Regions from separate parts of the Homo sapiens genome. Here region 1 is linked to region 2. The links come from fine-mapping of genetic effects on gene expression. A gene starts in region 2. The other region holds a variant in brackets. All regions are shown on one strand. Distances are from middle to middle.

Evidence for each region. PIP is the estimated chance that this variant, and not a neighbour inherited with it, causes the effect. A credible set is the group of variants that fine-mapping cannot tell apart.
Region 1: its variant is the best candidate, but not a certain one, in a credible set for the expression of SEMA3B-AS1 in subcutaneous fat (GTEx, PIP 0.86).

What each region holds. Positions count from the first base shown.
Region 1 is chr3:50,325,466-50,329,844 of GRCh38, forward strand. TUSC2 (tumor suppressor 2, mitochondrial calcium regulator) reads right to left here and starts at 2,758. Exons shown (of 3, transcript NM_007275.3): 1 at 2,489-2,758; 2 at 892-1,012; 3 at 1-721. The coding sequence starts at 2,634. The coding sequence ends at 656. RASSF1 (Ras association domain family member 1) reads right to left here. Exons shown (of 6, transcript NM_007182.5): 6 at 4,323-4,379. RefSeq lists an enhancer at 2,893-3,002. The variant C/T (reference allele first, on the strand shown) is at 2,336.
Region 2 is chr3:50,265,011-50,269,389 of GRCh38, forward strand. SEMA3B-AS1 (SEMA3B antisense RNA 1) reads right to left here and starts at 2,361. Exons shown (of 2, transcript NR_110702.1): 1 at 2,271-2,361; 2 at 1,631-1,877. It overlaps SEMA3B (semaphorin 3B), which reads left to right and starts at 4,137. Exons shown (of 17, transcript NM_001290060.2): 1 at 4,137-4,339. The coding sequence starts at 4,231. RefSeq lists enhancers at 1-41, 1-492.

The sequences.
Region 1 (4,379 bases), 60 kb after region 2:
GGATCAGCCCAGCCCTGGGTAGAGGGAGAAGCCCCCACCCAGTCCCCACTCCTATCAATAGCCAGCAAACTGTCCATCCATCTGAAGGCGGGAACAAATGGCAGGTAGGTCGGAAGAATCAGGCTGGCACTGCCCCCAGCCTCTGTCCAACACAGGAGGAATCGAGGTAGCAAACGGCTGAAATGCTCTGACTAGGGGTTAAAAGGGAAGTGAAGGAAAGGAAGTTCCTACTTGTATACAGTGCCCACAGCCTAGGGGCTGGAAGAAAGCATACCTTGCTTGTAAAGTGCTGTAGCCTCTAGCAGGGCTAGGCCCCAGGCAAACTTGGAAGAAAGCAGACCAGGCAAGGAACCAGGTAACGGGCATTCCTGACTGGTATATGCCCTGCTGTGCTGCTTGCAGGGGTGGCTTGGGAGAGTGGGGTGCTAACTCTGCCATTAGCCTTCACCACCCACCAACCACCTCTTGTCCACACACAAACCAACACCCAACCAATACTGTGGGACCGACCCGCTCACAGCTGAAGGTTATGGGCCAACAGAGTTTATTCAGGGTTGTGGCCCCAGCCTGGGCTCCTCAATGGAAGCCACACCTTGATTGAGCCTGGGAGTTTCTTGCCGGGGCAGGGGGTGCTTCTGTCTGCCACCTCCCAGGGTCACACCTCATAGAGGATCACAGGGAAATCCACGTGGATGCGGGGGTGATCCAGCTTCACGATGCCCTGCCATGGAAACAGAGGCTAGTAAGGGTCAGCTCAGGGCCTCTACTTCAGGAAGCTTCCTTGTTCCTCCCAGATCCCCCCGCAAAAGCCCCCACCATGACAACAGATCCCATCTGGGTCCACCTCCACACGCTTAGTGTAGGCTCTGTGACCGCTGCCCAGCCCCTCACCTGAGGAATCAGATTCTTATGCACTCGCCTCAGCTTGGCCCGCTTCTGCCCGTTCTTGGTGACGATTGTCTCCTCATAGAACTCGTGAGCCAGATCCCCATCCTCATCATAGAACATAGAGCTGTGTAGAGGGAGAAGGAAACAGGCTGGGCTGGAGCCCCACACCTGGGCATGGCAAATGTCACAGGTCACGGGGAAGTCTGTGGTCTTCCCAACCCCAAGTGGGAAGAAAAGAGGATAATATGCCTGGAGAATCCTTTTTTTAAAAAAAATTTTTCGAGACAGAATCTCACTCTGTTGCCCAGGCTGGAGGTGCAGTGGCGCGATCTCAGCTTGCTGCAACCTCTGCCTCCTGGGTTCAAGCAATTCTCCTGCCTCAGCCTCCCAAGTAGCTGGGACTACAGACATGCACCACCACACCCTGCTAATTTTTTGTATTTTAGTAGAGACGGGGTTTTGCCATGTTGCTCTGGCTGGTCTCGAACTCCTGAACTCAGGCAATCCACTCGTCTTCATCTCCCAAAGTGTTAGGATTACAGGCGTGAGCCACGGTGCCTGGCCTGCCTGGAGAATCCTTTGCCTGGGGTTTGGGGTCTACTAGAAGAAAGTGGGAAGTGAGGTGATGGGTGGGCAGTGCTACTATGTCAGACCCCCAAGAAGAGAGCCCACACCAGAGCACACCATCCAGGCAGCCACCAAGGCCAGTTCTCATCCTTGATTTGTTCAGCAAGGGCAGCCATTCTAATATCAGGACTTTGCCTTCACCCAGGACTTCTAGAGTGGGCAGGGTGGTGGCCTGGGCATGTTGGTCTCACTCCAGAAGATGCTGCTGGCCCAGTGTCAAAGACTGAAATAGCAGAAGCCTAAGCTAGGAAGAAGCACAAAGGAATGAAGGCTGCGTCTCCCCTGACCCCACACCCCAGGTGGCTGGTGAATTGCCACTGTTGGGTCTTCCTGGTGTCTACAGCCAAATCTCTAGCACAGGGAGCGCCCATCTCCAGGAGCCCACTAGAGCCAAGCCAATCTGGTACTCTTGTGCGGGCCTCTGGGAGACTGGGCTGGGGGTTGGGTGGGTAGGTCAGCGCTCTGGATCTGGAGAACATAACTGGGTGAGGGTCTTTTTTCCTCAGCCTCACCCCCAATACTGAGGCCTATCCCTGCTTTCCCAGCCACTACGCTCAAAGGTTCAGCCCCACTACTGTCAGGAAAAGCAGCCTAAACAGAGGGTTATTATCCCCTTGGAATAACTGGGGGGGAAAGGGAGGCTAGGACCCTTCAGTATGCAGGCTGAGCCGGAAGGGATGAAAGGAAGAGATCTTATGGAGGTCTTATGGAGGCCCTAGCTTAGCTTTACCGTGCGGAAGGTCCGACCAGTGACAAGCCTCAGGCCCACTCTTCCCTAGGGAGACTTTCAGAGTGGCCAGGCCGCCAGGAGACCACTGCC[C/T]GGCTTTCTCCACCCCCAGCTCCAATGAGGCTCAAAATATGGGGGTCGTCCTGGCTTGGCTGTAGTGGGGTACAGCGGTGGAAGTTCCCCCGTGGCGCGGGACGCCTGGCCGCCCGCCTGTTCCCCCCGCCAGGGTGGAACCCATGCCCTTACCCGCGGCGCGTGAATACGAAGGGGGGCACAGCTCGGCCCCGAGGCCGCACCAAAGCTTGCTCAGCTCCTGCTGCCTCTGAGCCGCCGCCTCCGGCCGCCGAGGCGAAGGGCCACAGGCCCCGAGCTTTGGACCCGCTGGCGCCCATGTCAGGGCCGCCGGCGCATGGCGGGCCCCGTGGCCGCTCTGCTCACACCGCAGTCCGCACTACCATAACCTGCCCCAGCCGCTGATCGCAGGTGCCGCCGCCGCCGCCTTCCGCAGGCTCGGCTGTCTCCACGGAAACCTCACTTCCGCTTCCGCACGCTGCCACCTCTGATTGGCTGTTGCTCAAGTCGTGGGGGCGGGACCAATGGGCGCCCTTAGATGCTGGGCATCCCAGCATGCGTTGCGAGATCCCAGGTCCCAGCAAGCGCGATCTGACCAGCTGGGACAGCTCCCACCGAGGAAAGTGGTGGCCGTGAGTCCTCCCGGTCTTTTGGGTGTATTTGGCGGCTCTGACGTCCCCCAACACCTGAGTTCAGGCCTAGCAGGACTTCGCAAGCACCAATCCTCAAACCTGCACTTCAGGGCCTAAGGCCAGACCGCCGGGTGCCCATCTGGCTTCTATTTTCACAGCTGTATTTTTGCGATTGCCACGCTTATGTGAACTAACCAAGTTGAAAGAAAATTAAGGAACTGGCCAGATTCACATAGTTACATTCAGTTCTGAAGAACTTCGAATTCAGTGTTTTCAAACCCAGCAGAGTCCATGCTTAATGAAAGCAAGAATTGTTAACAGCTATACCCTCGGTATCACGAGCAGTGTCTGGTCCACGGTGGCAGCTCTGTATTTGGTGAAGGAGTTATGCCACACCTTCTCCCAGAGCGTGGTGTGTGTGTGTTGAAGGGATGGTTTTGTTTTTTTTTTTTTTTGAGATGGAGTTTCACTCTTGTCGCCCAGGATAATGTGCAGTGGCACGATCTCGGCTCACTGCAGCCTCTGCCTCCAGGGTTCAAGCGATTCTCCTGCCTCAGCCTCCCGAGTACTTGGGATTACAGGCATCTGCCACCATGCCGGCTAATTTTTTTGTATTTCTAGTAGAGACGGGGTTTCACCATGTTGGTCAGGCAGTCTTGAACTCCGGACCTCAGGTGATCCACCCGCCTTGGCCTCCCAAAGTGCTGGGATTACAGGCCTGAGCCACTGCGCCCGGCCGTTTTTTTTTTTTTTGAGTTGGAGTCTTGCTCTATCGGAGTGCAGTGGTGTGATCTCCACTCACTGCAACCTCTGCCTGCCGGGTTCAAGCGATTCTCCTGCCTCAGCCTTCTGAGTAGCTGGGACTACAAGCGCCCACCACCACGCCCAGCTAAATTTTTTTTGTATTTTTGGTAGAGATGGGGTTTCGCCATGCTGGCCAGGCTGGCCTCGAACTCCTGGCCTCAAGTGATCTGCCCACCTAGCCCAACCAAAGTGTTGGGATTACAGGTGTGAGCCACTATGCCCAGCCAGTTTCCCTAAGTTCTAACTGCAGTCCATTTTTGTCTCCACCACAACCTGAGCCCCAGGGAGCTGAGTGATGACCAAGTATGTATGCATACTACATCTTCACAAATTGGTCCATGGTGACTTTGCAAGACACCTGGGAGCCTGTCCATCACCCTTGGCAACTTCTGGCACCATGAGGGGCAACTGCAGCTCTGCGCCTATAATAATAAAGAGTCCAGGCTGGGCAGGGTGGCTCACACCTGTAATCCCAACACTTTGGGAGGCCAAGTTGGGAGGATCCTGGGCAACACAGAGAGACTCATGTCTCTACAAAAACTTTATATGTATAAAAGATTCCAACAGCAGGAGGATCTTGAAATCTTTATTGAGCCAATTCTCTCAGGCCCCAGGCCCTGATGATGACT
Region 2 (4,379 bases):
ACAGGGCCCTCAGAAGGGAAGGGGAACAGGCAAGGAGGGGAGGAGCTAATCTTTCAAAAAAGGTGGGCCAGGGTTCCCTGGGAATGTGGAGACCAGGCTGGGGTGAGGACATGCCTGCAGACGCTTCCCCAGGAGATGCCCCTGGGGCAGGGCCTTAGAGTGTCTGGGAAGTTAGGCCTCAGGTGATGATCCTATGGCCGCCCACGCCTGCCCCCACTGTGCCTAAGTCCTCTGGGCAGCATGACCTGGTACCTACGTGGCCAGAACAAGGAAGAGTTGTGACGTTGGAGCCACAAGCCCTGATGACTAAAGCAGGTGTGAGTGGGGCGCCCAAGATCCCATCCAGTCCAGGCTGCACTGGGAGGGTTGCCACAACCTTCCTCAGATGGGTGTCCCACCCCAACCACACCACCCGGAGTCCAGGCAGGGGCAAAGGGGCAGGCCCAGCTGGTGGCCAGGGGTGGGGAGGCAGGTGCTGAGATTTGGCACAACAATCCAGGTTTTTCCAGAAGGAAAAGCCAAGGCCGTGGTAGGCCATGCCACTGACAGGCAGCCCCAGAGCAAGGACCCAGGCAGGTCTCTGCCCATGGAAGCTCCCTCAAAAGAGAGAGGTCCAGGGTAGGAGTACAGGCAGGAAAAGGGACCCCAGCTGCCTTGCCTGGTTTGCCCCATTCTGTTGAGACTCAGGCTCAGGCTGCCTGATTCCAGAATCCTCGAGGAGTTCCAGCCCCCAGTGTGACCCACAGGCAGTGACCTTGCTCCTGGAGTGCTGACCTCCATGGGGGCCCCTACCCATGGCCTGGCACACTGGACCTGGGGCTGAGGAACAGAAAGGGGACCATGTGGAATCAGGGACAACTTGACCTCCCATCCCTGGAGACCTCCATTCCTACTCAAGGGAGGGTACACATCTAGAGGACAGAGGACAGGGCACAGCACTCAATGGGGACAGAGACAGTCTAGTCCTTTTGGCTGGGGGTTGACTCCCAGGCTATTGGAAAGATAATGGCGGTGGCGGGGGGGTTTCTGATACCGTTTCCCAGAGTGAACACAGGTGGAGGAAGGTGCGGGGTGATGAAACAGAGACAGGGCCCCTGGGCCTGGAAAAACATAAGGCAGTGAGGGCCTATGGGGGCACAGTGGGAGTGGATGGGAGCCTCTGAGGCACTTGCTGATCCTGGCTGCTTGGGTGGAAAGCTGTAAACAGCCAAAGAATGTTGTCTGCTTGCATGGAGCCAGGAGAGCCTGCCCAGGTCCTCTAAGGCTAGAGGCAGCTACTCCTGGAGTAGGAAAAGGCCACATCCAGGAAGCCCACGAGCCCAGGCAGGGATCTGTCCTTCCACTTGCCCTCCTGAAGGGCCCTGCGGCTCCCACTGGCCCCTGTTATTTACCTGCCAGCTGGCCAGGCCAGGCCAGGTATACCAGGTCCTCAGGCTCAGGAAGGAGGGGCATAGCCCCACTTCCACTTCCAGGGGACTTGGAGATGTGCCCCCCACCTCTGTCCTTGCTTGGCTGGAGGCATCCAGGGCTGGGCAACAGAACTGCAACACTTGAAATGCCCACACTGCCCCATCAGCCTTGGGAGGTGGTAGGAAAATGCCTTTTGCGGGGATGGAAGGATCAAAGCCCATTCTCAAGCCCTGGTATATTCACTCAGGTGGACTTCAGGGCTCCACTCTGCCACTGTCAACATACAGTCCCTCCAGAGAAGTACCCCTCATGTTACAAATGGGGCACGTTCACCAGACTCAGCTTCAGGACAAGACCCCAGGTCATTCCCAACTGAGGCTCCGAGGTGCAGGAGCTCCGTCCTGTCTGTAAAACTCCCTCAGTTTTCGGCTCTGGGTTTGGTGGGGGTTGTTCCTCCCACCTCCAACCTAGAAAGAGAAGCCAGAGGAAGGGAGGTCACATGGTCTGCCCCCCAACCTCTCAGCAGAGATGCAAAGCTACCTGTCCAGGATGGCGGACTCCAGATGGGCCCCGCCCTGTGGTGCAGAAGTGAGATTTGCTGCTCCTCCTGCGTCTGCCCCTCTCCTGCCCTCCTCTCCCTCCCCTATCTGGCTGTCATGGTAGAAGCCACTGCTGGCCAGGCCACTGAAGTACTAAGTGGCCCAAGTGTTGAGGAAGGATGGGGACTGGGTCCTGAGGGCCCATCCGACCTCCAGTTGAGAGCCCCTCCCCTGACCTCCAGCTGCCCGGCCACCCCAGCCGGTCCCTGGGAACTGAGGTGGCAGCTGAGCTCCCCATTATCTTTCCCCACAGCTCCCCACCTGTGGAGGGAGAGGTTGAGATATTGGAGTCCACGGGTGGTGCCCCCACTCAGTGATTCCCTTTGCCTGCTGAGCCCCTGGAGCTGGGGTTTCTTCCTCCCTTGCCTTGGCTGGCCACCTGGCTTCTGGGACCGCCACCTGGGGCACCCTTCTGCTTTAAGGCCCAATATGGGAGGGGTCGTCCCTACCAGCCCCTCCCTTGTGCCCATTCCACTCCCGCCTGGCTGCCGTCTCCAGCTGGTCCCGGCTGCCTGCCCGGTCACCCGATCCGCCCTCTAAACTTTACGGCACGGCGGGCGGTGCGTGGGGCGGTGGCTGGCCTGGTGGGGGCGGGGGCTGCTTCTTAAAGGAGCCGTCAGAGGGTCCCCAGCGGCCCCAGGGTGGGAAGGGGCCAGAGTGGAGAGATGCTGCTGCGGAAGTCCTCGGTGGAGTGTGAGAAGGCAGCCAGTGTTGGCCTGGAAGACCTCTAGAACCTGAGAAGAGGCAGCGGCAAGTGTCAGCGGAGGGAAGGAGGGAGGTGGGGGTCCTGGCCTGGGATGGGGCCAGGAGCTGGGCAGGAGTGTGGGTGGAGGGGCCTGGAACCTGCCTCAGCAGCTGCTCCACTTGCTTAATCCCACCTGGAACCTTGTCCCACTCCCTGGGCTCCTGTGTCCAGCACCTGCCCAGCTGACCCCTGGGAAGGAGGGTGGGCATAGCAGCCAGGTCTTTGCCCCAGCTGAGGGCCAGGGGGAGGTGTCTGGCTCCTAGAGTGAAGGGGCTCAAAGATGGGGAAGAACTCAAGGGGTGAGAGAAGTGAAGGGAGAGGCTCAGAGAGGCTGTGGAGGCGTTGAGAGGGAAGGCCAGCTCAGCGAGGCCAGGAGGCTGGGGTGCAAATGAAGGGCTGCCTCACCTTGCCCCTCTTTGATTCCTCAGGGGTGTGGAGAGAGAGCCCTCAAGCTCAAATGCAGAGGCTGCTTCAGCTGGGTTGGGAGCAGTCCCCAAGTCAGAGGCTGAGGCTTCTGCCCAGGTCTTGGGTCTCCTGGGTAGCACTTCTCCCTCTGAGGAATGGAGTGATTGATGCTGCAGTTGGATTTGCTCACTTGCATGCCCAGAGACATGTCTATTCTTATGGGTGCACACGTTTGCACATGCACAAATGTGCAACACATCTGTGTGCAAAATATGCACATATCACACATATGTACTGCATGGATTGCACAGTGCCACATGTGTGTGCACACCAACCCATATCCACACATGTGCAATATGACACACTATATATTTGCACATAGATGTGCACACACATGCACATACACACTACACACATGCGCACATCACAAGGGGACACTCGGAAACACATTCACAGGCACCCACACCCTTGGCTCCAGCCTCAAAAGTGTCTCTGTGTTTTTCTGCGGGACTGTGGGGACACTGCCACCTCCAGAGGCCTGACCCCCTCCTGTCACTCTCACTCTTTTGACTGGCTTGTTTTGCTCATTGCACTTGGCACCCTCTGCATCCATCTGATTCCTTGTTGGCACTCTGTCCCCTTTCACATGGGGACCTTGTCTATGTCTCCCAGTATCCCTCCTCCCAGGTCTAGGCTGGCATGAAGTGGGTGGCACATTGTGAATTAATGTCTGTGAGTGTGTATACAAGAGAGGAGATTACTGGGAAGGGTGACGTGGTGAGGCGGGCTTGCCAGTGCAGGGTGACCCTGAGGGTGTGCCCAGTGGCGTGGGTGTGTCTGTGATTGTGGCCAGGCGGGGCACCCTCGGAGGGGAGGGTTCGGAAGTGGAATGCGACCCCCCAGCCTCTTTCCCCTAGGGGCTGTAATCTGATCCCTGGGGACTCCCCCCCTAGCCTCCCGCCCTCGCCCTCACTGCTGACTCCTCTTCCAGATCCTGGGGCAGAGTCCAGGGCAGCTCAAGGCTCCTCCACACACACACCCGCTGAACCCTGAGCACCCTGAGCTGCTGAGATGGGGCGGGCCGGGGCTGCCGCCGTGATCCCGGGCCTGGCCCTGCTCTGGGCAGTGGGGCTGGGGAGTGCCGCCCCCAGCCCCCCACGCCTTCGGCTCTCCTTCCAAGGTAGGTGCACCTGGCAGGCGGGAGGGCCCAGCTTGAGGTG